Linked DNA regions of Homo sapiens: regions 1 and 3 are each linked to region 2. Evidence: fine-mapped expression QTL. A gene starts in region 2. Each other region holds a variant in brackets. All regions are shown on one strand. Distances are from middle to middle.

Region 1 (10,376 bases), 24 kb before region 2:
AATTAATAATTGAACATTTTTACTGTAAACTATTCAACACTATCCTTTCTCTTTTTAGAAGAATTTGTTAATGATCTAAGCTCCATGAATGAAAGAAGATTTCCTGCCAAGTTTGACACCCACTCTAAATGGACAAATCTGAGCTTTGAAGGCAAAACAAAACATTTGGGATTCTGTGATACTTTACCAATGACCAAACCTAACTTCCTCTTTTGGAGAAGAAATTTAATGTAAACCTTCATGTGAAAATTCCCAAAGATTTTTCAGATACCACAGTCCTCTTCAAACCAAAAGCTGGAAGAACAAGTATAAATACACTAAAACATGTGGGATTTGTTTTCTTTAAAATGTACATTAATTTTTTTAAGTTCAGGGAAGGGTCATTTGAATAATTCTATGAGCTGTACCAAGCCAAAGCCAAGAATACCTCATGGCAGTGTGGTGAGGCTCTTGATTTCCCACGCCCACATATGCACATAAGATTGCCTTTAACAGATATTTTAAGGAATAAAGGTAAAGGCCATGTTTGTACAAACATAATAGTAATAATGATAAAATAATAATAGTGATAAAGCCCTTGGAGATGTAGCTTATGGTCACTGGCATAAGAAATTCCCAAAGATTTCCACATAAATAAGGAAGGACAACTCACCTATGGTGAAAACTTGTTCATATGAATGGCATGGTGACCCCCCCAATTCTGACTTCCTCTCACACAGGTGAGCCGCACTCTCCAATAGAACTTTCTGCAATGATGTCAATGTTCCTCATTCTGCAGTGTCTAATACAGTAGCCACTAGCCATGTGTGGCTATTAAATAATGGAAATATGCCTGGGACTAAGGAGTTGAAATTTTTGATCTTATTTAGTTTTAATTATCTTTAAATTAAATAGCTTCATGTGGCTAATGGCTACTGTAATGGGCAGGATAGCTCTACAGAGCAGGAATAAACCCTTGATTAAATCATTGTTACTCCTTGAATACATCTCTATAATTACAACCATAATAATAAATAATTAACATTTGTTTAGCACTTGGGGCTTTACCTGCTTATTCCTCACAGAGCAAATTTCAACCATCATTCATGCCCCAGGTATTTGTAAACTTACTCTGGATAAAATCCTATTGTAACAACTAAAGTGAAGACTCGGGTGATAAGTGTGATGATGGCCCTGGATCCAGGGAGACAGAGCATATAAGTTGGTATAAGGACTGGTATGAATCAGCTCAGGGCACCAGATGGACAATCACATGCAAGGGTAGCAAAAATCAGAGAGAAATTTATGGACCATATAGGATAGGAGGATGGTGAACTCATAGGAGTAGATAGTCCCCTTGTAACCCAACAGGCTGTAGGTAATCTTGATGTGGGTCCCAGTCCTGGCTCTGATCTTATTATCCTCTGAAACGAAGAGGGAACAACGGGCTACTGACAGTGAACTCCAAGGAGTGTAATATAATCACATACTTTCACAAGATGTTGAGATTTACACAGAAATATTTGCAAATAAGAAAGTTTGCCTTTGGTGACTTTGGAGTCACACTCAACAACTCTCTTTCTCTCACACCCCACATCTGATCTCTTCAAGCAAATATTATTGACTTTATCTTTAAAATACATTCAGAACCTAGCAACTTCTCATCACATTCACCATGTTCTGACCACTATCATGCCATAACAGGATTATTGAAATTGTCTTTTCACTTCTCTTTTTGTGTCAGTCCTTGCCACAGCACAGTATTGGACATATAGTATATATTTCCACCAAGCAAGCAGATGGAAATAGAAAACCTCAGCAAAGTTTATTGCAACAGCTGGATTTATCATTGATATGATTTGGATGTGTCCTCACCCAAATCTCATCTTGAATTGTAGCTCCCACAATCCCCATGTATCAAGAGAGGGACCCAGTGGGAGGTAATTGAATCATGGGGGCGGGTTTTTCCCTTGCTGATCTAGTGATAGTGAATAAGTCTCACAAGATCTGATGGTTTTATAAAGGGGAGTTCCCCTGTACATGCTCTCTTGCATGCCATCATGTAAGATCTGACTTTGCTCCTTCTTTGCCTTCCACCATGATTGTGAGGCCTCCCAGCCATGTGGAACTGTGAGTTCATGAAACCTCTTTTTCTTTTTAAATTACCCAGTCTTGGGTATTTCTTCATAGCAGTATGAAAATGGACTAATACAATCACAGACATGATCAAATGGTTGTAATTATATTTTACCTATATCTAATTATATTTTCTACTTATGCAATTTTACCTACGCTGTCTGAAAAATCAAAAATAGTGATTACATAAAATTCCACTAAAACTGTACGATATCTGGAAAGAGCACAGAGTGATGCTTTAAAAAAATGTGTCTGGCAGAGCCTCGTGTCTCACACCTGTAATCCCAACATTTTGAGAGGCTGAAGCAGGAGGATCACTTGAGTGCAGGAGTTTGAGACCATCCTAGGCAACATAGCAAGGCCATGTCTGTACAAATATAATAATAATAATGATAAAATTTCTTTAAAAATGTATCATCTAATGCTACCCTTCTACCCCAAATCCTCTACTAGCTTCCATCTCTGAATAAAAGCCAAATCATCTAAATGGCCTTTAAGTCCCTATATAATCTGACCTCATGTTTCTACCACTGTCTGCCTAAATCACTCCATTCCAAACAGAGTGGTCTTCTGAACTTCCCAAGGATGCTCTTGCCTTAGGGACCTTCTGCTATAAGTTTCTTACCCTACATTCTAGCATAGACCTTCTTATAGACTGAATGTTTGTGTCTCCCTCAAATTCATATGTTGAAATCTTAATTTCCATTGTGATGGTATCTGGAGATTGGGCCTTTGGGAGGTAACAAGGTTAGATTAGGTCATGAGGGCAGGGTCTTCATAACACAATTAGTACCCTTATTTAAAAAAAAGAAAAGGCAGTAACACAGGATCTCTTTCTCTATGCTCTCCGTTATGTAAGGTTTCAACCAAAAGATGGTCATCTGCAAGCCAGAAAGAGGGCTCTCAGCAGAAATGAGATCTATTGGTACCTTGATGTTGAAATTTTCAGCCTCCAGAACTATAAGAAATAAATGTTTGTTGTAGAGTCACCCAGTCCATGGTAATTTGTTGTAACAGCTAGAACTAAGATAGACCTTCCTCCCACCTTTGCTCAAACATCATCTTTGCAATGAAACCTTTCCTGATTACCGTGTCTTAAATTTGCCACTCACACCCCTCACATACACCCTTTTCTCTAGTTCAGCTTCATTTTCCTCCATTAAACTATTAACTATCTAAAATACTATTTTTTATATTTTATTGATTGTCTATTTCTCTCCACCAAAATATAAGCTCCATTAAGATGGGATTTTGTTTTGTTTTGTTTGGTTCATTGCTTTATCCACAACATATAGAGAATTTCTTAATAGGTAGTAGACACTAAAACAAATAAATAAAATGAAGAATAAAGCTTTCTGAGTGGAAAGTTGATGAAAAAGAAGTTTTAAACCACTAAAGGTTTGTTGTTAGGACAAAGTTTGCATGCATTTCAACTATTGCACTTGTCCTCCAATGTTTTTTTCCTCAATTTCAACAACAGAAATTAGCCCACAGCTATATTTTGTTTGTAAGAGAATTTCTCTCCAACTAAGAGGTCATGAATCTTGCTTGGCCACAGTTAAAAAATGAGAACACTTGGACACAGGAAGGGGAACATCACACACTGGGGCCTGTTGTGGGGTGGGGAGAGGGGGGAGAGATAGCATTAGGAGATATGCCTAATGTAAATGACAAGTTAACGGATGCAGCACACCAACATGGCACATTTTTGCATATGTAACAAACCTGCACGTTGTGCACATGTACCCTAGAACTTAAAGTATAATAAAAAATATGTATATATATAAAAGAAAATAATACAAACATTATACATGGAAATTATGTCACTTAGTTAAAGTAAAACATACATTTATTCCAAGATGAAAAAAAAATTGTAGACACATCGAATGTTACAGCTGGGAGAGGCTATAAGAAACACTACTCCAGTGGGCCTCAAACTATGTTCCCACAATAGCTAGACCAAGTTTTCCCACCATAAAATAAAGTAACACAATATTTTATCCAATTTTCCGAAAACATAAAGCTAATAGAAAAAGTTTTCTCAATTTTTTTTCTCATAAATTTCTCTTACGGTATTGGCACTGCAATCACTTAACTAATGATATGGTTTGGCTGTGCCCCCACCCAAATCTCATCTTGAATTGTAGCTCCCATAATTCCCACTTGTTGTGAGAGGGGTGAGGTGGGAGATAATTGAATCATGAAGGCAGTTTCCCCCATACTGTTCTCATGGTAGTGAATAAGTCTCATAAGATCTGATGGTTTTATAAGGGGTTTCCCCTTTCACTTGGCTTTTCATTCTCTCATGCCTGCCACCATGTAAGACATACTTTTCACCTTCCTCCATGATTATGAGGCCTCCCCAGCCACATGGAACTGAGTCCATTAAACCTCTTTTTCTTTATAAATTACCCAGTCTCAAGTATGTCTTAATCAGCAGCATGAAAATGGACTAATACAACTAACAAGCATTTTAAGATGTCAAAAATTAATAAACAAGAAGCAAGCAGATAGAAATAGAAAATCCTAGAAATGTTTATTGCAATAGCTGGATTTATCATAGACATGATCAAATGGTTGTAATTCTATTTTTGCCTATAT[T/C]GAATTACATTTTCTACTAGGGCAATTTCCCCTACTTTGTCTAAAAAAAATTAAAAATAATGATTACATGGCATTCCACTAAAACTATAATATCTGGAAAACAGAATTCTAACTGTAGGTTCTCTAAGTTGAGACAAGTTTGAAAACATCTGATCTAGTCTAGGCCTTAATTTCACAGATGCTGCAACTTACACCGAAGGGAGGTGGCTGGCTCAAAGTCACATAGTGACAAAAATATATAACTTGACAAATCTTTTCTGCTTACCTCTTTCTTCCCGATTTCAAATCTCAAGGATTTGGTTTGTTTTTCTTTTTTTAAGATCTCACTATTTACTTTATTATAAGAGGAATATCTGCTCAAAAATCAGTCTATTAAATTGAGTTTCCCTGGAAGCCAACTCCTTTTCAATCTCCCAACAAGCCCACTTTTCTAATCACTATGTGTATTAGGATTGTCAGAGAAACAGAATGAGTAACTTTATATATATAGAGAGAGAGAACTTTATATATATATTTATATATATAATAACTCATATATACATATATAGAGATAGGTAGATATTATAAATATATGTGTGTGTGTGTGTGTATATATATATATATATATATATATGTGTGTGTGTGTGTATGGAGACAGAGAGATTATGAAAAATTGGCTCATGCAATTGCGAAGGATGAGAAGTTCCAAGATCTGCAGTTAACAAGCTGGAGATCTAGGAGAGTTGGTAATATAGCTCCAGTCTGAAAACCAGTGGTCTTGAAACCCAAGAAGAATTATTGTTTCTGTTCAAGTCCATAGGCAGGAAAAAAACTGATGTTCTAGCATGAAGGCAGTCAGGTAAGAGAAGTTCCCTCTTATTTAGGCTTTTCGTTATAATCAGGCCTTCAACTGATTGGATGGGACCCACCCACATTAGAGAGGGCAATCTGCTTTACTCAGTCTACCAACTTATGTTAATCTCATCCACAAGTACCTTAAAGACAAGGAATAATGTTTGATCAAATATCTGGGCACCCTGTGGCCCAGTTAAGTTGAAAGATAAAATGAACCATCACAATGTGTAGGTAATAAAGTCTTATTAAAAAAAAAAGAGATAGAGAGTTATAAATCTACGAAAAATATAAAAAGAAAGGGAGAACTTTAGCATATCTTCTCCAAGACATGGCTAAAAAGCTAGAAAACCATGGATAGTTTTCAACCCCCCAAATAGGTTTCCCTTGAAAAATTTTTCCTGGAGGATTTCAGGGGAAGAAAAAAAAGCACATAAAAGAAGACTTCTAATTTTAAAACATTTCAAATGTCTTTGTTTTTTAGAGCACTGGAAGATCTTGCAATACAAGCCCATTTCTTAAATGGCAGCAATCAATTGGATCAAGTAGCAACTACTCCCTTTATACAGGCCTAGAGTTTTCTGTTCACCCCAGTTCTCTCTGTCCTTTTCACCAGAAAATGTTAGTTTCCAATCAATACTAATTTGATCATCATTTTTATCTTACTAAAGTAGAATAGTTTTGTGTCTTCATGTCATCATCAAAATTGGGGAAAAAATAAACTAAGGTGATAATGAATTTAAAGAATACAGTGAGAAGAATCACATTTATTTTATAAATTAATTATATTGTATTAATTATATTATTATGTTTTAATATGCATACAATATGTTTCTGTGTAGAAACAACTAAAATTAGTTGTTTTTTTTCATATATTAGCCCATAGCCTTACTTGAGTTTGTGATTCCTATTTTATAGTCATGATTATTAACTCACTTCATATATAGTAATTGAAAGCTGTGGGCTTCCTGTTTGCTTTCTCCTCTAAAGACTATTACTAATACTCCTAACTCATAGTAGACACATCTCATGCCTAATGTCTCTGCAGCTTCCTTGCTCACCACCAACCCATCACACAACACACATTAACACCCACCAACTACACAATAAATGAAACAGTTGTAAGTTGTTCCTTGCAAAGAAGTAGCCATTCATGGTGACATTGCCAGGCGCTTGGCCTAAGGGCACTACAACTTGAACCCACTAAGCTAGGGAGTGACCTAGCTTTTTATTATGGCAACCAGACTTGCTCTGTTTTGAATTTTTGATGTTATAAGATTTTAATTTTTATATGTTTAAAATTTCAATTTTAATTTAATGAGATTGTCCAGATAATAATGAGAATAGAGGAGACAGCCAGACAGGACAAAAACAGAAAGTAAGATGAGACCACATGGTACATAAAAAAGCTGGCTGAGCATGGTGGCTCATGCCTGCAATTCCAGCACTTTGGGAGGCTGAGGCAGGAGGATCACTTGAGCCCAGGAGATCACGGATGCAGTGAGCTACGATTGTACCACTTACTCTAACCTGGGCAACAGAGTGAAACCTTGTCTCTGAAAACAAAACAAGAACTACTGAGAAATTCATGTTTTTTTAAAGCTTCCTCTGTGACCAAGAGATTATTCCCTTTCAGAATATAAATATTAGCCTAAATTAGATTATATAATTATATTTTTAAAAAGTTTACTTTTTTTTTTCCCACATCTCAAGGAACTGCCTATGCTAAGGGACTCCTAACCAAGTCGGCCTCTTGTTTCAGGTAATTTTCAACAATGACCATGTCTATTAGTCAGGGTTCTCTAGAGGGACAGAACAAACAGGATATATGTATATAGGAAAGGGAGTTTATTAAGGAGAATTGACTCACGATCAAGAGGTAAACTCCCACGATATGTCGTCTGCAAGTTGAGGAGCGAGGAAGCCAGTGGTGGATCAGTCCCAGTCTCAAAACCTCAAAAGTAAGGAAGCTGACAGTGCAGCCTTTAGTCTCTGGCCAAAGGCCTGAGAGCCCCTGGCAAACCGCTGGTGTAAGTCCAAGAGTCCAAAAGCTGAAGAACTTGGGGTCTGATGTTCTAGGGCAGGAAGCAACCAGCACAGGAGAAAAGATGAAGACCAGAACACTCAGCAAATCAGACCCTGTCATGTTCTTCTGTCTGCTTTTATTCTAGCCATGCTGGCAGCTGATTAGATGGTGTCCTCCCCGATTGAGGGTGGATCTGCCTCTCCCAGACCACTGACTCAAATGTTAATCTCCTTTGGCAAGACGCTCACAGACACACCTAGAAACAATACTTTTCATCCTTCAATCCAGTCAAGTTGACACTCAATATTAACTGTCACATCATGTAACCAGAAATCCACTAGTGTGGGTTGAATCTTTTATTCCTAAAATTGATAAAGAATATTTTTCAGGACTCACTCCAATTCTGAATCTAGGTTAACATCACCAAAGATGACTTTCTGATTTATGTTGGTAATTTCTAGGTGTTTGGCCATAAGCTGAGTATATCATTAGTTTCAAAACAGATATACTCATCTCCCAAATGGCATTAGTATGTCATCTTGTTAAGAAAAGTTCACTTACAGTTTGTCATAGTTCATTTTCTTTTGCTATAACTGAATACCACAAACTGGGCAATTTATAAAGAAAAGGAATGTATTCGTCACATTTCTGGCAGCTGAGAAGTCTAAGAGCATGGTACTGGCATCTTGTGAAGGCCTTCTTGCTGCCTCATATCATGGTGAAGGGCATCGCATGAGGAGAGGGCAACAGCATGCCAACTCAAGTCTTTCTTCCTCTTCTTACATAGTTACCAGTCTCATCAGAGGGCCCCACCCTATGACCTTATCTACTCCTAATTATCTCCTATCTCCCATCTCCAAATACCATCAACATAAGATTTGGGGAATTAAGTTACCAACACATGAAATTTGGGGAACACCTTCAAACCATAACACAGTTTCATCAGTTTCTTTGGATATTGTGGCTTATAGATATACCACATTTCTGTAATTATTAAAAAAAAAAAAAACTTGAGCTTTATTTTCCAAGAGCCTCTGCCAGAACTTAAAGTGTGTTTCAGATTTCTTGTAACTTGAGAACTTCCTCTATAACTGGGCCTTTGTTTACCCCAACATATCTGTATATCTAGGCAATCTATAACTCTACTGAATTCAGGGAATATCAGAAAAAGGAAATAAATGTGCATTGAGTCAATCCACAAGTTCAGTTTGAATGTGAATATTTCACTTCCTTAAAGAAAGCAGAGCTATTCTTGTCTAGCTTATTTGTCCCTTAACTTTAAGTTTAATCTGTGGCATTCTCTTCTTACATCAGTAAGAAACAAGAATCATACTATGAGTCCTGGGGGGTCCGACAAGTTGGTTCTTGCAGATTTTCTGAACTCCAAAAATTCCTTGGTATCAATTTGTAGTTTAAATTCTTTTCAACATGCTTTCACCTCCTATCTTCCTGATAGCACAAAAATTAGCAAATTTTTCATACTTTGCTTGAAATTCCTGCATAAACTGGTAAGATATGGTCACAGGCAGAAAAATTATTTACAATGGTGATCATTTCCTTTGTCATATAATGAAATGAACCTAGCTTGGAAAATCACAGCAAAACTTGTCTGGTGAATTTGGACACTAGGCACACCAACATTCTCTTGGAATCTGAATAAACTGTTGAAAGCTTCTTTCATCACAGTGCTCTATCTGAAAAAAGCAAAATTAATTTTTCAAAGTTTGAGCCAACTTCTCAGCTTTCTTTCTGGTAAACACTTACTTCATTATTTTGGTCTTTAAAATATTGCTAAAAATGTCAGACTGTCTGCACTGGAAGTCAGATGGACAGAGTTGACCTGCTGTAGAATATTTCTTTACAACCTCTAGCTCCTCTTATTTACCCTGAGCTTTTGTGCACCTGTATCCTGTATGCTGCAGTGTTTGTTTGCCACAATACAAATGTCACCCACCTACCCCACCCAAAATAGAGGCAACAGACAAAAGTATTGCCTCATATGCCAATAATTTCCTATGATCTAAACAAAACCCATTTATAAAATTCTAGACAACCTAAAATAAGCAAATATTAATACAATTTTGCCCACATTCCTATTTGATTTATGACTGAACTGTTGGCAGAAACATTATTTTATTTATTATTATTATTACTATTTTATTTATTTACTTATTTTTTGAGACAGAGTCTCACTCTGTCTCCCAGGCTGGAGTGCAATGGTATGACCTCGGCTCACTGCAACCTCCGCCTCCCAGTTTCAAGCAATTCTCCTGCCTCAGCCTCCCAAGCAGCTGGGATTACAGTCATGCACCACCACGCCCGGCTAATATTTCTAGAGGGGGGCTTCACCATGTTGGCCAGGCTGGTCTTGAACTCCTGACCTCAGGTGATCCGCCCACCTCGGCCTCTCAAAGTGCTGAAATTATAGGCATGAGCCACTGCGCCCTGCCAGAAATATTTTAAAGCCAGCACAGCACATCACTATTTGTGATCTAGGAATCCTAATCCCTGACTTTGAATTTTCTCTGGCTCATGTCATGATCCCTCCACAGCTGTGTTATAATGTGGAAATTTATCTTTCATGTGGGTCTGACTTAGCCTTTACTTTTTTTTTCTGTCTCTTACTTAAATCATGATGTTTGAGTCTCATCTTTCATGTTTCTTTACTATTTTCTCTACTGATCTTTGTAATTCCTGGGTTTTCCTAACTACTGGGCCAAACTGAAGGCACATTAATCCATGATTCATGATCAATCCATGATCACCTTTTGAGGTTCTATAGAGAAGACGGTATGGTTAAGAT
Region 2 (10,376 bases):
TACCTTTTTCTCTACCTATAAAATCCCCTGCCCACTCCCTGCAAGGTTAAATTTCAGTGCCATCATCTATTTGAAAGCCTTGACTTTATTTATTCTCTATTATAGGGATCAGATGCAATTAGATCATTCTATGTATGTTGTCTCTACGTAGCCTGTGAATATTCCTGAGGTTAGGGCCTAGCACTTCAACATCTCTGATTCCCCAGGATCTAAGAGACTTCCTCCTGCAGAGAAGTAACTTTGTAAGTGTTTCAGTGCATTACATGAGCACAGATGCTGCAGAGAACAAACATTAGTAATTACTATCATTGTATAGATTATGATCTAGGAGAGAAGATAAAAAATGGTCACATTATTGTAAAATAAGCTATGTAAGTGTTATTATCTCAGAGCCAAATAATAGACTCCCTTCCCTTGATGCATTTATTTTGTATTAAAGACAAATGGTATTTCCCCACACATGTGTTTAGTGACCCAGTCCTACCACAAGAAATGCCAGTCTCCTTGGTTTGAAATACTAATTAATCATTTTTTGTTGTAATTCTGGGATTTTAGAGCCCACTTACTTTATTTAACTTTTTACAAATTGGTTAAAAGAAAATAATTAAATCAACCTGTTCAAATGATCCTAGAATTGCATAACAGCTTAAATATAATTAAGTCATATTTCAAATTAAGGGACCCAGCAATGCAGCTAAAATGTTACTGCTCATCAGTGGTTGTTATTCTGAGTCATAGAATGCCACGAATTGAACATTCCTGCCAGGGCACCACCCTGGTCCACCCTCCCCTGCTGCAGCCCTGGTGTGTCACTCATGTTGAAGTCTGCCAGTAAGTCCAAGGAAGTTTCCTATAGTGTTGAGAACTGTTCCTCACCAGGATTCTGAAGTCAAGTATTTTGTTTTTTTGTTTTTTCTTAAGTACCAGTTGCCCAAATGTCTTTGGACAAGGTTTCTGGCACAGGCTTGTTCAGGAAATAGGGAGGGAGAAACACCTATTTTATATTTTAAGTGAAAAAACACACAGGAATATTACGTAATAACAAAAAACAAATGGTTGGCTCATGGTGAAGTTTAAGTTCCATATCACTGTGACTTTATTTTGGTCAGAGAGGAAGCAATCATAGGTTCTCAAGGTATATCAACAACAACTATTAGGATAATTTCACTAGACTGTTTAATTTAATAGGCTTAAAATGAAATATGCCAATGTTACAATTGAGCACAAAACTACTTATTTTCTCTTCCTAGTTACAAGTGAAAGAAATTAATGAACAGCAGGTTTGCAGTGGAATAACAACTGTTGTATCCATTTTTGCCTCTGCAGAACATAGCCCTGGAGCCCAATATATGCCAGAAAATTAAAAATTATTGAACTAGACTAAGTTTTCCATATGAGTTAGCTTTGTGAGTTAGCCCCACTGTTTTGGGGTATATTCCCCTAAGTGCTTACATACTAAAACTTAAAAATCCAAATCTTCATAAAATCTTTGTAAAAACGGAAGCAGTTCTGTACACTTCCACCTACCCCTAACACCTGAGAGTGGAGGGGATGGGGTTGGGGTAAAACCACACTTTGATGCTACCTTAAAATGTATTTAAAATCTCATATTTGACTTTTAAAAAGAAAACATGATTTAAAAATATTTCTTATAAAAATCTGTTATTTTAGCAAACAACAATTTTTAAATTATTTATTTTTGAGTAAAATCAGCACCACCCCCACTACCCAGGTGGGAGTACCTTATTTATCCTGTAGCTTTGAGAACCTATAATCTTACTGCTAAAGAACCCTGGCATACATTAGACACGGAGTTCTAGAACCTCTTCTATTCCCCCAACCTCTTAGCGGAATGTTCTTCTCTTGTAAAAAAATTAAAAAAAAAAAAAAAAAAAAAAAACCTCTGACGGCCAGCCAATTTGAAAAGCAAATTCATGTGAACGTTATAATGGGTTCTGATGTCTTCATGCATACCCATTTTATAGAACTATCTTCAAGATAATTCCCTAATCCAAGGTAAATATTTTTAAAGCGAGGATTCCAGAAATAATAATAGGAGTTGATGGAGATATTTTTAGGCGGACATTAAAGTTCCTCTTCTGATGGCCATCAAATTTCACCACTTCCTACAGGGTCTACCACACGCAGAGCCTGCCCTGTTTACATGGTCTGTTTAATACCAATTCTTCTATTTACAGAGAAGAATGATTCATACTAACCGAGCACTTACTTTAATCCAGGCATTGTGCTAAATGCTCAGAGGCTCGGTTCATTTAATCCCCACAGCAATTCTCAGACCAGAAGTAGTACAGTATTTTCATTCCCACTTTACATTTGAGAAAACTGAGGCTTAGATAAACTTGATGACGTTTCCCAAATCACACAGCTACTATATTGTGGTTCCAGGACTTGAGTCCAAGCAGCGTAACTCCAGAACCTTACTTACTCTAGTTACTTTACTCAGTATATTAGATTAACTCCAAGAAGAATACTTTGGTTTTAAGTATATGTTTTTCTTTTTGAGATTATTGGTTAATAATCTCAATTACTCTTGCCTCATTTCATAGACATCCACTTTCCAAATTCTTAATCAGTTCAGTCTCTAATCTTTCAGTGCAGCCATCCCCAACCGTTTTGGCAGAGAGACCGGTTTCATAGAAGGCATTTTTTCCACAGACCAGGGGTAGGGGAAACGGTTTCAAGATGATTCAAACACATTACATTCATTGTGCACTTTATTCCCATTATAATTATGTTATAATATATAATGAAGTAATTATAAAACTCACCATAATGTAGAATCAGTGGGAGCCCTCAGCCTGTTTTCCTGCAACTAGACGTTTTCATCTGGGGATGATGGGAGACAGTGACAGATCATCAGGCATTAGATTCTCATAAGAAGCGTGTGCAGTTCACAATAAGGTTCATGCTCCTACTCATGCTTCCAAACCCTTAAAGAGATCTGATCAAATCAAGTCTCATTTAAAATAGAAAAGTATGTAGTATAAAGTCTAGAGCTGAAACATTTGTCATCAAGTGTCTCATATCAATAACTAGTTTGTGACTCTGGGCAAGTTTCTGTCTTCTCTAAATCTTTACTCAATGACATGTCTTTCTGTCAGTCAGAATAAAATTGGTTAAGAAAATAACCGGCTTGACATTTATTTGTATTTGGGTTTATTGAAGTTCAGAAAATAAGCACTGATTCTAAAATTAATTCTCTAACCATAGTTATCTCTCAGTCTCTACATTTGTATTGACTAGACATATAAAAGATTCATAAATATGTAAACATGTAAACATAAAATTTGTAACTTGTGAAAATTAATTGTAACAATATCACTGTTAGTGATGGTTATCACCAATAATTTGTAAGTCCTAGAGGAAATAAAAATATTAAAATTGAAATTATATATTAGCCCCCAGAAGAAAGGTAAATTTCCCAGTAATTGTAAACTTGAACATATTATATGTTAACCCTACTTTATTTCAATATTTTACAATTTCTTTTTGTTTTTTCTAATGAAATATATTGCAATTTGCTAAAATGCCATATATGTATTTGCATATGTATGTATATGCTGTACATATATATGTACACATACATACATACACATGATTGTGTATATATAGACACACTATTATATGTTTTTGAAAACTAAGCAATTTGGAGAAATATCATTGGGAAAGTACTTACTATGATTTTTAAATGTCTACGAATTAATCAATATCTATTGGTTACTGTTCAAAGCACAGAGAGTCATACTGAGAGGCATAAGACATAACTGATACTACCAACAGGGAAACGAGATATACACAGGAAATGAATTCCTTGGCAGGGTATGAGAGCATTGAACACAAACAAAGGAACTTAAGTAAAGTCCAATGGGATTGAACTGTGACCCAACATAATACAATTTTTCTAGAGACTCATTTGTGTAAATTTGAAGACAGAACTGAGAAATGACATTATAAAAACTAAAAACGGGAGAACGAGATTTTTAATGTATTTACTAAATAGTGAATCAGTTCAGATACATAATAGAAAAGGAATTTCTTGATTAATGGGTCAACATACTGAGATCTGATGGCCTTCAACCTCCTTGGGTCTGCCCACCCCATTTTTGACGCTCCTTAAACTTCTTCAACTTTTGTCTTCTCCAGCTTTTAGTTGCTGTGATCCTCTATCTGGCAATGTATCCAGTGAACCCTGTGGGCTTCTTCCTTCCTGTCCCTCGTGTTACCTGTTCTGTGCTACCTGTGTTGCGTTCTGCTCAACGAACCCTCCTTTGGGTGGCACTCTTGTCCTGCCTAGCCCTAGTTCTGCTAGAGATGCTCAATTAGTTGTTGAGTTGAAGAATTGAATTGAACTGTTTCCCTCAGATTCCTCTAAACACAAATCCACTTATTCTTTCTGTCTTTGAAATTCTCAAAACCGCTAAGACACAGCTATTTTGAAAATAGCCAGCATTGGTTGAAGCTAGGGTGAATATGGCTTTTGACTCAGAGAGGTTGTTCAACTCACCAGGAAAGGGAAGCATTGCAAGTTCCTAAGCACTTCTGGACTCTTAATGCATTTTCACTCGTGAAAGTTTCAAGCAAGAAAAAAATAAAGTAGTGCCCCGAGTTCTTTATTAGATTCAATTACCAGCGTACAAACATCCTAATTCACTTAAACAAAATAGCCCACACACATTCCATTTCCAAGGAGGCTGCTTTTCTTCCTCTCTTCCCTTCTCGCTCTCCCTCTTACTGTTTTTCCTCCGTCTTGCTTCTCCTTTTCTCCCCTTATCCTAGTTATCTCAAAGAAAAGCTTATCTGCAACCACCCTTTAACCACGAATTACCATAAACGAAGCAACCCCCCCACCCCCCCATAAGCGAAAGCAAAGCCCTCAGTGGAGCCTGTCGGGGTGGTGGGGACGCCCCCTTTCGTGCAAAACGACTTCACGGTGAATTTCAAGTGTCCGCAGGGGATGGAAGGGGGGATTCCAGATCCTCGCATTTTCACAGACGGCCTAATCCCTCTGCGCAATGGACCCGGGAAAGCTGCCTCCCGTTAAGGGCGCCCAGGCACTGTCAAAGCGCCCTCCCTGCCCGGGCCGGGAGAAGTAAGGGGTGTGAAGGCGGAGCCACTGGGCTGGCAACACCCTCCCGAAGGTCCAGCCCTTACCCGCCTTCCTACCACCTTAGGGGATTTGGCCCGGAGAACGAGATCACCCTCTCAATGAAAGGCAGATGTCCCTTTAAGGTTTGCTTCTACAGCCCGTGGACTTTAGCCTAAACACGGACCCGCGAAGCTGGCTTTATTTGTCCATGTCTCGGACAGAGCCTGGGAAGCTGCCAGTGAGATTTCAGAGACCAAGAGCGCGAAGGGGCGGGCGATGTGGCAATCCGTCTGGGATGTGAAAAGCGTGGAGCGCATTTAGAGGAATTCGACGAAAACACAGGAAATCACTCCTCTCCCGCTCCTGGGCGCCGCTGCCACTGGGGCAGAGGACTGGGAACCGCGGCAGCGGGATAAGTGGCCCAGCCAGAGAGCGCAGCTCCCGCGCCCGGTCCTGCCCTGCGAACCAGCGCGGCCCCCTGGCGCTGAGGCTGCTCCGGCCATGGCCCCTCGGCCCCGCGCCCGCCCAGGGGTCGCTGTCGCCTGCTGCTGGCTCCTCACTGGTGAGCGACTCGCTTTTCTCTGAGCATCTCCTGCTCGCGGGCTTGGGGCTTGGAGCGGGGAGGGAGGTCCTCAGAGCCATGGGCCAGATAGGAAGAGAGAGCGCCCATCCACTTTCGGGCATTCCAGGTACTCAGGCCAGGCTACGGGGCAGGCAGGAGTTTCGCGTTCTGGTTTTGATATGAATTAGTTTTCGTGTCTCTCCAAAGTCCTTCACCCTAGGAGTAGGAGTGAGGCAGCACTGAAAACCTTAGAAGGTAGAATTCACTTTTAAAATTAAAGTTGTTTTTACAATACACATTGTATATTAGGACTTTGCTGAATATTTCCTCCCCTCCACCCTTTTTTATGGCATGGGATGGGAGGGTGATGCTTATAGGGCGCCTGATACATATGCAAAATTCCTACCCTCGGGTTGTTCCAGAGTGGACATTATTGAATTTTCTTGCTGTCTACTATTTAGGCTTTTTTCCCATGCAGAACAAGAAAAGGCAGGGATGCAAGACGAAACTGCCACTTGTTCCAAAATGATGTTTCTATGTCAGCACCCAAGAGGAGGGATATTTTGAAACGTAGAAAGGAATGGTGAACATTTTCTCTGTAAATATCACAGGGCAGTCTACTTTTAAGATGCAAAATATAGTATTGTTATTTGTACATAAATGTGTATTTTTAAGGAGGGGACTTAAAAACATAGTGGAAATGCAAAGTTGTATCCAATTTAGAAAAAGCTTGAAATATAGCATTTTGTAAGATTTTCCCAATAATGAACTCATGGTCAGATCTTTTTTACCAGTTACTGATTGGGGTGGGGGAAAGTTGAAATGGTGAAAAATGGAAGAAGGTGGGGGGAAAGTGTATCGATAGAATCTCTGTGTGAAAGAAAATCACCTTATTAATGGGTTAATTAACAGCTGGCTTTAACATATCATTGATATTCAATTGTTCAGTGTTTTTACTGCTGGCATGGTTATTAGTACTAGTTAATTTAGCATTTTTACCACTAAAAACAGGGTAGAGCCAGCTAGTTTAGACCTGCCTTAGATGGCCAAGCATTGTTAAGTTTTATGAAGATGATTTAGAAGTTGATTATCAGCAAGCAGAGCTTTTTTCAGAAGGGAGGTAATGTAAAGAGAGTTAATAATTAGCTACTGGCTTTTCATCCAAACATTTCCCACTACTCAGGAAATGTCCAATAATCCAAACAGTGGTAACTGCTGAACAGCATTATAGCCGGTGAGTGGTTTAACTTACCAGCTACTGCCACTACTTTTTACACATATTTGACCTATGATTCTTCTCCAACTCAAATTTTTTTAGATTGTATTTTGTTGTTTTTGTGCAAAATCTGAATACAGTAGTTTACTATCCAAGTTGTACTTTTTCATTCTACCAAATAAGCAGTCTCTAGAGTAGAAATGATGAAATGAGGTTTGCGTATCCTCTAAAAAGACAAGAGTGAAACTTGAAGTAACAGAGAAGTTTAACAAGTTACAATTTCATATATATGTTGGTGAAATATACATTGGTGAATCCAGGAAGAGACTTAAAATATTTAGAAACCTTGTGTGCACTATATTTATGCCCATTTCGCAACACATGAGGGATCTGAAATTGGACTGCTTTCCCATCAGTCATTATATTCTGTAGGCTCTTCTTTAGCAATCTCTTTCAGATTTGGAAACTTCTCATCAATTCAGAGTCCGTTTGTAACCTGGGGACTCATCACCATACTTATCCATGCACACTACTGTAGAGCTTATCTTTCTGTCTTCAATTTGAACCCAACTTCCAGTCTACCCTCCTAATACATCATTTTTACTATATCTGTTTTTAGTCAAAAATCTTTGGTGGTTCTTTGTTGCCTTTAAGATAAAATCCAAAATTCTCAACTGACTGCCCTAATCCAACACCCTCTCTCTATCTCCTACTACTCCTATGTCAGTTTCTTATTGCTGTTGTAACAACTTGCCATAGATCACCAGCTTAAAACAACATAAATTTACTATTGTACAGTTCTGTAGGTCAGAAGTATCACTGGGCTAGAATCAAGATGTCACCAGGGCTGCATTTCTTCTGGAGGTTCTAGGGGAAAATCAGTTTCCCTGTTTTCACCAGCCTCTGGCCACCACCTGCATTCTTGGCCTGTGGCCCCTTTCTCCATCTTCAACCGAGCAGGGTAGAATCTTCAGATCTTCCCCCATGACTCTGCTTTATCATCACATCTCCTTCTCAGACTCTGACCCTACTACCTTCCTAAGGATCCTTGTAATTACAATGTGCCTACCAGAATAATCTCCTCATCTCAAGATCTTTAATTTAATTACATCTTCCAAGTCCCTTTTACCATCTAAGATAACATATTCACAGGTTCCAGGCATTAGGTCATGGATATCTTTGGGAGACCATTATTCTGCCTACCACAACCCATAAGCATAAACTGTCCATTATAGCCAATCACTTTTCTTTACTTTCTCCATAATCCTCATGTTCATTTTGCCACTGAAGATATGACCTTGTTTTATACATCGAGAAAAGAATTCCACCTTTCCATCCTACCACCCTCTGACATCTAAATAAACTCTCTACAGCCTTCCAAACTGGGTTTACATCAGAACAACAAGCCACCAGCATCCCAATAAACTTCCTATTTGATTTAGACTGTCTTATATTAGCTCCTTACAACGTTTACTAAAATGATTCATCAAAAAGATGTCCTTATGTCCAAAGGATTGTTATTTTATGTATGTCAAAGTCTCAGCATAAACTGATGTCACATATAAAGGATTTAACTGAAGACAGTTTCATAAAGTGACAGTTTAGAGAGGCCTTAAAGGAACAAGAAAAGAGGGTGGAGCATCTAGCGCAAGCAACAGTAGGGAAAAAAGAACCTGAAGCAAGGTGAGAAGAAAAACCATGACCATTCCTAGGCCTGAGGAGGTGGCAGTGTTAGTTTGATTATGAACTCTAGTTATGGGAGGGTGGCCATTAGACTGGAGTTGTGGTCATAAAAAGGAATGCAGCTAGTGACAAAATTGAAGCCCAGCAGAGAAGGAGTAAGGAAAATAAATATACCTCCTTTCCTCCCACCCTCTGATGTCTTGCTCAGCCTTCCCATTGGCCATCCCCAAATGGCAAGATCCAACCTTCCAGAGAACAAAGGGCAAGACAATCAATAACAGAATAGCTAGCACAACTTAACCCCGAAATGTATTATGTGCAAGGCACTGTGCCAAGGGCTTTGCATGTATTATTTCATTTTAATCTAAAAAATTAAGTTTACTAATTGATCACAAGCAGTCACAGATTTCTTTGTTCTTTTTTCACTCCCTCAGCTTGTTGATTAGCCTTGAAAAAAAGAAAAGAAAAAATTAAAACTTTATAACTATTATCAATATTTTAGAGATGAGGAAATCAAAATATAGTATTAAGAAGTTAATTTCATTTGTCCAAAGTTGAAGAACTAATGACAAATCTACTCAATTCATATCTCTGACCTCAAATTAAATGCTCTAAAATAATATGCTATATTGGCTGCCTAAAGATAAGTTCATTCTCTCTTGCTCACTCCTCTAAATGTGAAATCCAAACATAGTTGTCTAAAATACTTGGATAAAGACCTAATTAATGATACAAGTCAATCTTTTATTTCCATGATTTTTAGGTGTACAGCATTAAGTGTAACTCAAGTAAGACTACTATTTCTCGTTATTAAGAATATAAATATAGAATTAGCCCTAATTAAACTATATGTCTCTCTTCCCTAGAAACATTTTGGTTGGCCTAGAAGCAAGGGTCTTCTTTTCACAGGCAAGATTTCCTATTCAAAATGAAATCCAGTGAGGAGATGGGAGATGGCTGAATATGGGGAGGAAGTCAGCCACTTATTCAAAACAAAGAATGACTCCCAATGGCAGACAATGTATTGTCAGGAATTGCTGAAGATGGTGAAAATTGTCTTACTCATTGTGATGTTTGTAAAGGCAGCAATGAATTCACGGGATTTTTGTTTGTTTAGTAAACAGGCAATGAGAGTAACCATGAGACACATATATATGCTATACTAGTTTAACTATTTCTCTTCCCTCCTGTCATAACACTTACCCAGCTATTTTGAAGCATGAGCTCTTGGGCCACAGCTTATCACTGATGTTCTGACTTCAGTAGATAGATGCTCCTCTAACATGTTCCTCCACTTCCAACCCAATAAACTTCCCACTAGATTTAGAACTTGCTGAATTTCCACATCTTAACATATTTTAGTAGAATAAAGTAGCTCATGTTTAAAATATATTTAGAAAAGTTGGGGACTAAAATGCTATTCTTTACCTACACTTCTCTTCTGTTGTGTGAAATACAAAATAGTGTACTCAAATTCATGTTAAGAAACTGAGATGAAAGATATTTTGAAACTGTTGCCACAGTGCTAAAGTCAGAATAGATTGCCTATTCAGAGCAGTCTGTGACTGGAGAATTGTATTCGCCCTCAAAGCAAGTACAGTAGAGTATCAAGAGATGCAAATGACTGCATATATTTCTATCTTCAAGATTATTGAGCTTCTTTCAGCTCCTTTATTATGCCAGCTACTCTAAAGTCTCCTTGGGGACTTTGCATAAGTAGTTACTCCCACTGCTACTGATCTCAATCCCTGAATAAACGTCATTTCCAAGAGATACCCTGAAGTAGATTGGACCCTACCTTAGGACAT
Region 3 (10,376 bases), 110 kb after region 2:
ATATACAGAACTCTTACAACACATTTAAGGGAAAATAAACATCTCGTTTTCTTTTAATGGGAAAAAGATTTGAACAGACACTAACTACACCGAGGAAGAAATACTATAGCAAATAATTGTATGAAAGAGTCTCAACATCATTAGTCATTAGAGAAATGCAAATTAAATAAGACACCACTATACGCTAACACAATTGCTAAAACTAACAAGTGAACAAAAAAAACTGACAATAACAAGTATTGACACGCATGCAAAGCAGCTGGATCTCTTAGACATTTCTGATGGGAATAGTAAAATGGCAAAATGGGACGATTACTGTGGAAAGCAGTTTGGCAGTTTCTTAAAAAGTTAATCATTCACTTATTGTATGACCCAGCACTTTCATTTCTAGTTATTTACTCAAGAGAAAAGAAAATATATGTCTATTACAGAGACCTACATGTGAATATTTACAGCAGCATTATTCATAATATGTTGAAGCTGCAAACAACTCAAATGTTCTCATTAAGTAAATTGTGGTGCATCCATACAATGGAATGCTACTCTGCAATAGAAAGGACCCAACTACTGCTACATGCAGCAACACGGATGACTCTGAAAAGCATTGTACAAAGTCACAGAAGCCAGACACAAATGGCTACATACTATATGATTCCTTAAATCTGACATTCTGGAAAAATCAAAGCTATAAGGACAGATTATTTATCGGTGGTTGCCAGGGTTGAACGAGGGGAGGAAGGGATTGACTATAGGGGCAGGAGGGAACTTTTTGGGGTGATGTAAATATTCTACACCTTGATGTGGCAGTAACACAACTATATTGGTTTGTCACACTCATAGAATTGTACATCTAAACAGGGTGAATTTTACTGTATATAATTTATTGCAATAAACCTTACCTTAAAAAAAAACTAAATGTTTGAGAAAACCTGCTTGGACATCTAAATAATTATAGTTAACAATCATATATAACTCCTGCTTCTCTCTCCTCTTCATAAAAAAGAATGCCCCTGTCTCCAGCATTTGGTTTCAAACAAGAATATCTCAATTGTTTATTTTCCAGATTGCCAATTTAGATTACCACTTAGTCCAGTATGTGTTTAAAATATATATGTGCTGGACTGTGCCTTGGTAATAGTTTCAGGAAGAATTGCTCATTCAAAAGCAGGCAACTCACTTGCTGATTGCCTTTGCCAGCAGATAATGACATCACTAGCTGGAATAATATCAAAGACATTCAGAAACTATGAATATAACATTACTTTTGAACTGTCAGATTTTAAAAATACAGCTGTTAGTAACAGGGACACAGAGTACAAGAGGAGAAATTTTCACAGACATACAAAATTGCCCTTTATATTTTTCTACACCAATTGTGGTGTTTATATAACAGTTAATATTAGGGAGTCTACAAATTTTGAAAATCACTCTTCCATAAATATGAAAGTACATAAAAATTCCATTATGCTAAGGTACTCTACACTGTTGTTTACTGACAAAATGCTTGAGATCCTTTATTTAACACATAGAATTTAAAATATATTCTTGCTGTTTCTGTTGTGTCTTAGATTCTTGGCAGCTATAACCGAGGAAATTTAAGCACTGAAAAATTTGTGGAGGAAATAAAATCAATTGCAAGTGAACCCACTGAAAAGCATTTCTTCAATGTCTCTGATGAATTGGCTCTAGTCACCATTGTTAAAACTCTGGGAGAAAGAATATTTGCCCTGGAAGGTATGTCTATTTATCTTATTGCTGCATGTTCTCTCTGCAATTCAAAATCAGTATAATGGGATTTTTGTATTTATTCCTAATACATCAGTAATACTTTTTTTTTTTTTTTACTGTGTACAATATCTAGCATGGAACAATGCTCTTTTATATAAATCTGCCATTAAGATGGCTGTTTCTCACAACACTGTGTCTGCTAGAGACTCTCTTTGTAAGGGCATGGTAGGGCAGTGCTGATGGGACAGCCGATGAAGACAATGGTCAATGTAGATGTGCCAGGACAAAAATGTTTCCATGTGCTTTGTTCCTTTTCTGTTACATAGATTTGGAAAATGAGGGTACTACCTCTGGTTTGGGTTTTTTTTGTTTGTTTGTTTCTTCATTTCATATTGAGCTACTACAAGAGTGCTCTTATGCAATAACTTCTTTGTTCACTTATTTTCTCTGTATTTTGCTCCTTGCCCATTTTAAAGGTCTTCATGGAAATTTGCCTTAAAATCCATGGCAATGAAACATTGGTTCACTGTATTTGTCTAAATCATGTTACTTCTTTGCAGATTTTTCCTTGAGTTTTCAATGGTGACTGGCTGTTGAGGATAACGAGTTATGGCATTCCCTATTCTGCCTTAGGTAGAGGATGTCAAGTAGCTAATTACTTTGGAACTCGATCTTTCCTAAAAAACAAAAAAAAAAAGTCTTCAGAATTGTTATGCCAGGCAAACTGGCAAAGCTTCTTTCTTCACATTCTTTGATGATCTCTAGTCTCAGGGAACATGCGCCTTTTCTCCAACTAGGGAGAGAAACCACCAGAGAATTCTTTTCCCCTTAGGCTACATCCAAATCCAGTTGACCCTGTCCTTGTGAGGACACACTGAAAGACTGTTGTTTCTACATCTTAACAATAGAAATTTAAAAGCACTTTCTCAGTTTCCCTGATTTGATTGATAATAGGAAACAGAAAGACAAAATGGGAATGAGACACAACTGAAAAAAAGTAGACCATTTTGATTGAGCGTCAAGGGGCTGGGAAAATGCAGAAAAATTAGAATATGAAAATGTACAGAAAGGAAAGATAATTATTTAGAGTTATGGCTTTCAAACTTTTTTTGAGTGTGACTCACGATAATAACTACATTTTGCTTTTTGACCCAGTGCACATAAATATATACATATAAAAATAAGGCAAAGTTTCACAAGATAATTCTTATTACATGTGATGCACTGTGATGGTTTCTCATCAATTCCATTCTACCCTAATCTCTTTCAATGAAAAAAAAATGCTGGCTATACTCAGTCTGTTGATTTCATGACTGGGTCACAATCCGTACTTAGAACATTTGATTTAGAGGTGATAGGAATCTACAGGCCAGCCAGACTGAATTTCTGTGCCTCCCTTTTCCCCTGGCCTCTTTCCCCTGTGCCTTTAGAAACAGAACACTCTAATTGTTTATGAGTCTGGAGTCCCAGCTGCTTCTGAAGAACTCAGCTGTCTTGTGCTCTGTGTACAAGTCATTTTTAAGTGGCTTTGGTCTCTCAACAGCTCTCCCGGTGTCATTTACCAATAAACCAGATTATGAGCTTGGCTGGCCTTAAGGAAAATACATAAGGTCTTCCAACTAATTGTGTACTTTTAATTTTTAATAACATGGGCTAAGATATGATAGAAACAATCTGTAAAAATAATTTAAAAGAAAAGTTACATAGTTACATTTGATAGTTCAACAGAATACAGTGTCATTTCTAAATCTCCTTTTAAGTAAGCAAGTAACCTAAAACTGGCAAAAATGAAGCCCACTTCAGCTAGGGGAGGGGGAGATCAATTGCCTGAAATGACATTTCAGATTATTTCTAACCTAACTACACCATGGATTAAAGGTGACAGGTTGAAGAGCCCAAACACTCCAAGAAGTCTCTATATTTAAATATGACATCATTTTATAAGGAACTTTACAGATTACAAATGTCTTCTATATCATCTTTGTTGCTACACTACACCAAAAGCAGTGTTTTGACTAGACTATTTCTTATTTTTTTCATGAGATATTTAAAAAGGCTTTATTTCTTTGTTGCTCGGGAAATCTCCATTTCCTGTCAACATGTATCTTAAGATGACAAGTAGCTGTGATTATGAAATTTCTGTTTGCCAAGGACAGTGCCATCTATTGAGGCAAGTATGCCAAGGACTTGCTTAGTACATCAGAAAATAGTCTACTGTCTCCATTTCCCGTTGAGCACTGGGAGAAAATGCCAACATTTCTAACCAGAGGCTGCACAGTGGTTAGAGTGGCTGGCCCAAACACCCATGAACAGTCCAGGGAGAAGTTTGAAGCAAGAAGCCCAGGAGAATATAGTGGTCTATTACCATGATGCCACTGCAGCAGGAAGAACATCACATAGCGTCCTTCTGTCTGTTCTCAGCTGAAGGCAGAATAGCGGCAGGGCAGGTGCTGAAAATAATGCAGGTTTCCGTTGCTGCATTCTTATTGATCTTGCAGATAAGTGAGAAAACACCTGAAAGCATTGTGGACTGAAAATACATGTTTAAATTAAAGTTAAAATGCATCTCAGTCATTTAAATTACAGGGCAATTCACACAAGAGATTAAAATGATATATTTGAATTCTTCACTGCCGCGTCTAATCTAGTCCTACAAAGGTAATTACTGATGTATTTGTTCACAATTTTATCCATGTAAATAACTAACAAATAGTTACATTCACAAATTTGATTATTCTCTTGCCTCAACGAAAGGGCAGACTGACTTTCTTAAGTGCTATTTTTAACTTATCTGCAAGGCCAAATAAATCAGTAACCCCTAGTGCAAGCAAATAAATCAACATTCCATCAATTCCCTCAGGAAATTGTGGCTTTGGGTTTGTGAATATTTTGAGAATAATTTGAGAGTAGCAGACTGCCATGGAATGCTCTGAATTATCTCTGCATTTCAGTAAAGAGCTTCAAAATGGGTACAGGATCTTTTAAAAATGTATGATTGAATGGCATGTGGGCAGCCCTATCACAAAGACCCCTCTGGATCTGTGAGTGATACTTACCACCAGTAATTAGAGCAAATAAATGCATACTAAAATACCTAAACCCTTTATCACACAATGAAATTCTGACAGAATCTATGGCCTGAATATGGGTGGGACTGATGGAGTTGAGAAACCTCTTTAAATATGTGAATGAAATTTTTTTCAGTCCCATAACATATTAAGGGAGTTTAGCCTAAGGGCTCAGCAGGGTTCCCAAGGCATGAATTTGGACAGGAATTTCCTACTGTAGTACATCCAACTTGAGCCTTGTGGACCCAAAGCACCATAGGATCCACAACATGCTACAGTATAAGAATGGAGATTTCTCAACCCCTCTGGCGAGGACAGGGCTGCTAATGAACAAGAATTTGAGACATGAGCCCTTTGACTATTTTTCTCTGTCTTCTACCCAGGCCTACCTAGAAATTTTGGGTTGAGAAATGTATGGCTGAAAATGCCCTAAGATGTTTGAAGTTCTGGTTGGTAAGACCACAAGCTCTACCAGGTATCTGTATTCTGCAAGTCAGTAGTGC[A/G]TGAAAAGGCATTGTTACTTATTTACAGTGATATTTTCCTATGTTATAGCCACAGCTGACCAGTCAGCAGCTTCATTTGAAATGGAAATGTCTCAGACTGGCTTCAGTGCTCATTATTCACAGGTATGTTGACCAGTTGGTGAAAAATGAAATATATGTTTGCAAGACTTCCCTTCCCAAAACCAACATCTAGCCATCAGTATGTAAGTGCAACGTGCAGTTCATAGCTTGAACAATTATGCAGGCTATGATGATGTTTTCTAATTCAAATAGGAAAATATCATTTCACAAGCTTCTTATTAAGAAAATATGTTCTCTCACACAGTTCACTACATTGTACTAATAGTTGTGAATCAGACAGTGTGAGCTTTGCCTTGTAATTATGTATCTGTCTAAATGAAATAATTTAACATATTTGCTACAGATGTGGAATATTTTTCCACAGGTCAAGGAATTCAAGGGTCTTATTAGAATTCCATGTTCAAGACCTAGGATGCTGGGCACCCAGAATAAAGTAGAAAGACAAGATTAGAAAATATATCATTTGCAGTTAATGAAAGAAAAGGCATAATGGTCCTTGCAAAAGAATATTGACATTTCCATGTGCAATTTTACTGTATAACTTGGGTAAGTTATTTGTGCCTTGATTTCCTTTTCTGTAAAACAGGTATGGTAGCAATAGCATCTAACTCATAGAGTTATCATGAGGATTATATAAGCTAACAAATGTAAAGCACTTTGAACAGTATACCTATACACATTGTTAATGGTGTTTAAGTATTTCCCCTTATTATTTTTATTAAATATTATTATCTTATTTATTTGCATGTAAGGACTGGGTCATGCTTGGAGCAGTAGGAGCCTATGATTGGAATGGAACAGTTGTCATGCAGAAGGCTAGTCAAATCATAATCCCTCGAAACACAACCTTTAATGTTGAGTCTACCAAAAAGAATGAACCGCTTGCTTCTTATTTAGGTAAGGTTTGGATATAATTATAAAAGAGTTGTTTTACTTTTCCATTTTTTACCTTTAGCATTATTTGCTTATGTTTCTATAGGCTTGCAACCATATAGCAGGATTATTTCAACAAGTTGGGTATTTTCCAGAACCCATGCAAAGTTTTAGGCCTCTGAGCAGCTTTAGTTAGTCAAAATGACATACATGGGGGTCCTTTTTTGTTAGTAGGGCTGTCTAATGCAGGGAATGGTTTAGGTTGATATGTGCCCTTTCTGATATGTTCAGTTTCTCTGTGTCTGGTATCAACTTTAACTTCAAGGAGAACTTTGAACCTGGTGGACAAGAAATGAGAGTAGAAAAGGAAACCTCGACTTCTCCTATATCCTGAAAACCAAACTCATATTGTCTTAAATGTCTTCTATCATTAATTTCTCTCTATGGGTCCTAATTTGGGAAAAGAAAAATGTATTTTGTCATGTAACTTCTTCTTTAATAGCTCCATTCACAATCAGACAAATATTGAACTTAAACCCAGTGATATAACATGATCTTGTTTCCCAGTGTCTTGCCAGAAATGAGGAGTTGTATGTCTGGTACCACTTTATTTGGGATCTATACCAAGCTGAGCAACACCTGGGGGATGCCAGGGAACTCTCCCCTCACTGAAAAAAGATATTCACCAACAGTTGGGAGGACCTAAAATAAAAAGGACCATCAGGATATGGCTTCCCAGCTCTTACTCACTCAACAAATATTTGGGGGATCCTCTTTTGCCCCAGGCATTGATCTTAGTGCTGGGAATAAAGTGATAAAGAAAACACATACCTTGGCCTGGAAGCATTCACAGCTTCACGTGTTAGCCTTCCTCTCTGGGATCTTTCTGTCCCGGAGACAAGTCTTTTTCTCTCTGTCCCAGTTGCTTTCTATTTTATCAGGAAGGTGGCAGGTCTTTACTGCGGTGTTTATACATCTCCTTATTGAAGGACACCTATTAAAGCTGTAGGAGCAGCAGGACTTAAGAAGAATAAAAGGACTAGAGTTTTAGATGACTAAAAATGTAACAGTCAACAGCAGCTGCACTGTGACTGCTAAAATCTCTTAAGACATGTAGAACTGCATGAATGAAAGTCCAGTCTGTTTCTCATAGAAATCCTGTTACATTCCACTCTGGTCAGACAACAGCTAGAGTATCTGGTTGTTCTAAGTATCACATACTACAAGGAGAAAATGACAAACTAGGATGTGCCAGTAAAATATTACACAGAAAAGTCAGCTCCCGAAGCAATTCCCTGCTACAAGTCTCACTCTCTCGAAAACTTAAAGAAATTGAAGGTTAGAAAACAAAGTGTGCATTGCATGTATTTTAGGTATTTGGAGGATTGTGATATAAAATATAGGGGTTAGGCTTAAAATTCATTTCAAATTTTAGCATTAAAAGAGATCCTATGGAGCATGTAGTCTTAATTTCCAATCAAGAAACTGAGAGATAGAACAATTATGTCCCAGCTGCCTATGGCAGGTGTGAAACCACAATTGAGGCTTCTTGATTCTTATGTCAGTGTTTATATCACGATACCAAAATAACTGATTCTGGGTTGATTAAGAAAGCACTGCACAAATATTGAGTACCAGCAATGTGCCAAACACTGAGTTTATAGGGAATAAAAAGATAGATGGGGCAGGTCAGTTCCTACACTGATAAACCTTACTTTTTTGGGTGAGAGACAATAATGAAACAAGCAATCACTATCAGTATGATATGTGCTATGACACAGAATACCTAAAAAAGAGGGCTGGGGATTAGATTAGATATCTTCTAAAAGTTCATTACATCCTAAGGTTCTATGAGACTGTTTATGTGAAATACCTTGGAATCAAGAACCAGCTTAACCTGAGGCTTCTGTTATATGTAGAATAAATATAGAACATTTATCTTCCTATATAATGGATGACATATAAATTAGTAAAACTCCTTATGAAAGGCATTTGACAATGTGTTTACAGAGCTATAAAAAATGTTCGTACCACATTTATACAGAAATTTCACTTCTGTGGACCTAACCTAGGGAAAAAAATCCAATATTTAAGAATGCCAAGTGAACAATGATTTCCATTGTATTATTATTTATGTTATTGGGGGAAATGCCATTATCCTAAATGCCCGAAAATATGCAGGTAGTTAAGTAAATAGTAAATCCACTTAATGAATATTACACACCCATAAAAATAAAAATTATAAAGCTGCTGATTCTATGATACTAAAGACTTGAAGCAGTTATGGTACAAGGTGTACAATTAGCGATAGCGATGAGGTCATAGAGACTTGAGCTTGTTTTCTGATTCTGCCCCTGGCTATGGCTTTAGGCAAATTACTCTCCCCCTCAAAGCCTCAATTTTCCTATTTCTAAAATGGAAATAATTACACCATATATATCATTTGGGTTGTTAGATTAAGTAATGACTATATTTAGTACTGTGCCTGACACACAGTTAACACTCAATGGGTGTTGTCTATTATTTTATTATGTAAATGTTATTATGTATTTTTTTATTGTGTAATGTTATATAATAAACATTCCTCTTATTAGTATTGTGGTAGGCAGAATAATGATCCCCAAAGATGTCCATGTCCTAATCCCTGGACCCATACTTTGCATGGCAAAAGGGACTTTTCAGATATGATGAAATTAAGGATCCCGAGTTGGAAGATTATCCTCAGATATCTGGCTGGACCTGATACAATCAAGCATTCTAAAAATCAGAGAACCTCTCCTGGATGTGGCCAGAGGGAGACAGAACTATGGAAAAATGGTCAGAGAGATGCAGTGTTGTTGGCTTTAAAGATGGAGGGGGGCCACAAGCCAAAAACTGTAGATGGCTCTAGAGCTACAAAGGGCAAGAAAACCGATTCTCCTTGATAGGCTCCCGAAAGGAACACTGACCTGCCAATATCCTGATGTTTAGTCCAGGAAGCTCTATGCCAGACTTCTAATAAACAGAATGGTAAGATAAAAAGTTCATGATGCTTTAAGCCACCAACTTGTGGTAATTTGTTACAGCAGCAGTAGAAAACTCATACATAATACAAAATAATAATAGTAGCTGACATTAGTACTATTACTAATAAGTATTGAGTATTTACAAATTTAAAGACACTGTGTGAAGTCCACAAAGATGTGTATGATATTGTTGCCACTCTTAGGAAGCCCACACATTTTAATTGATAACACTGTAGTTTTTGGTATTCTTAATTATATGTGATTAAATTCCTTTAAAGTAAATAAACTCTTAAGAATCCTAAATTTGTCATTCCCAAAAACCTTTGGTTAAACGTTGCTTAAAGCAGATGTGGAGAATTCAACTTAAAGATGCCACTGCAAGTAAGAAAATATTAAGAATCTTATTTCTGAGCACAGTATTTATAATATATGACTTCTCTCTGTCCAAAAAGGAAATTTTTGGGTATGTTTTCTACAGTGTGCTGAGATTTTCTTTTCTGTTTCAGAAATTATTTCATTAGCTTACTCACAAGTGAGGGTATATGACATTTTGCCAACATAAAGTCTAATACATGTAAGATTTCTTTCAAAATAGAAAAGCATTCAGAAAAGGCAGGACAAATACCTTGTGTTTTTTTTCACCCAAAATAATATTCTAAATCTGAAATGAAGTTTTCAAAATGTTTCTTTGTGGGGGTCACAAATTGAGAAGAGACTGAGTGTATTTTTTCATAAACTGTGTGGATTGCAAGTTGTAAGGCTATGAAAAATCTTATGAAGGAAGCAGAGGCAGAGGCTCTGTTAGAAAAATCCCATGCTTATCAATAAGGATCAGGAAACTGTAAGAACTCAAGCTGTCAAACATCTGTCTCAGGACATAGTCCTACCCCATCTTTCTATTACCCAAACTGCCTTATGCCAATACAGGCATTGCAAGTGAATTTGGTGGTGAAAATACAGCTGGGATTATGTTCCCCTGCCTCCTCCACCCACAGTTTGCTGAATTCTATTCCTGCCATACAGCTTCCAAAGGAGAAGGAAAGATGTGAGGCAATGTCATGGCATCAAGACAGATCATACCTGTTTCCCATTACCTCACTAGATCCTGGCCCTTTTCC

Alleles and levels. Alleles are on the strand shown, and positions count from the first base shown. SD is a standard deviation of normalised expression in the study named.
With allele C in place of T in region 1, the expression in visceral fat of the gene that starts at base 5,171 in region 2 is higher (small effect, 0.17 SD a copy in GTEx).
For the expression in tibial nerve of the gene that starts at base 5,171 in region 2, allele G in region 3 goes with a higher level than allele A (small effect, 0.38 SD a copy in GTEx).

The links.
Region 1: its variant is fine-mapped to the expression of ITGA1 in visceral fat (GTEx, PIP 0.95). The same link has a PIP of 0.9 or more in breast.
Region 3: its variant is fine-mapped to the expression of ITGA1 in tibial nerve (GTEx, PIP 0.98).

Annotation. Positions count from the first base shown.
Region 1 is chr5:52,759,189-52,769,564 of GRCh38, forward strand. The region is part of intron 2 of PELO-AS1 (PELO antisense RNA 1); the gene reads right to left. Among named protein-coding and RNA genes, the nearest start is that of ITGA1, 24 kb to the right of the region's middle. The variant T/C (reference allele first, on the strand shown) is at 4,717.
Region 2 is chr5:52,782,746-52,793,121 of GRCh38, forward strand. ITGA1 (integrin subunit alpha 1) reads left to right here and starts at 5,171. Exons shown (of 29, transcript NM_181501.2): 1 at 5,171-5,669. The coding sequence starts at 5,609. PELO (pelota mRNA surveillance and ribosome rescue factor) reads left to right here and starts at 5,171. Exons shown (of 3, transcript NM_015946.5): 1 at 5,171-5,669. PELO-AS1 (PELO antisense RNA 1) reads right to left here. Exons shown (of 5, transcript NR_186455.1): 2 at 2,790-2,847. RefSeq lists an enhancer at 4,859-5,138.
Region 3 is chr5:52,892,107-52,902,482 of GRCh38, forward strand. ITGA1 (integrin subunit alpha 1) reads left to right here. Exons shown (of 29, transcript NM_181501.2): 9 at 1,569-1,734; 10 at 5,349-5,422; 11 at 6,133-6,277. Among named protein-coding and RNA genes, the nearest start is that of ITGA2, 92 kb to the right of the region's middle. The variant A/G (reference allele first, on the strand shown) is at 5,300.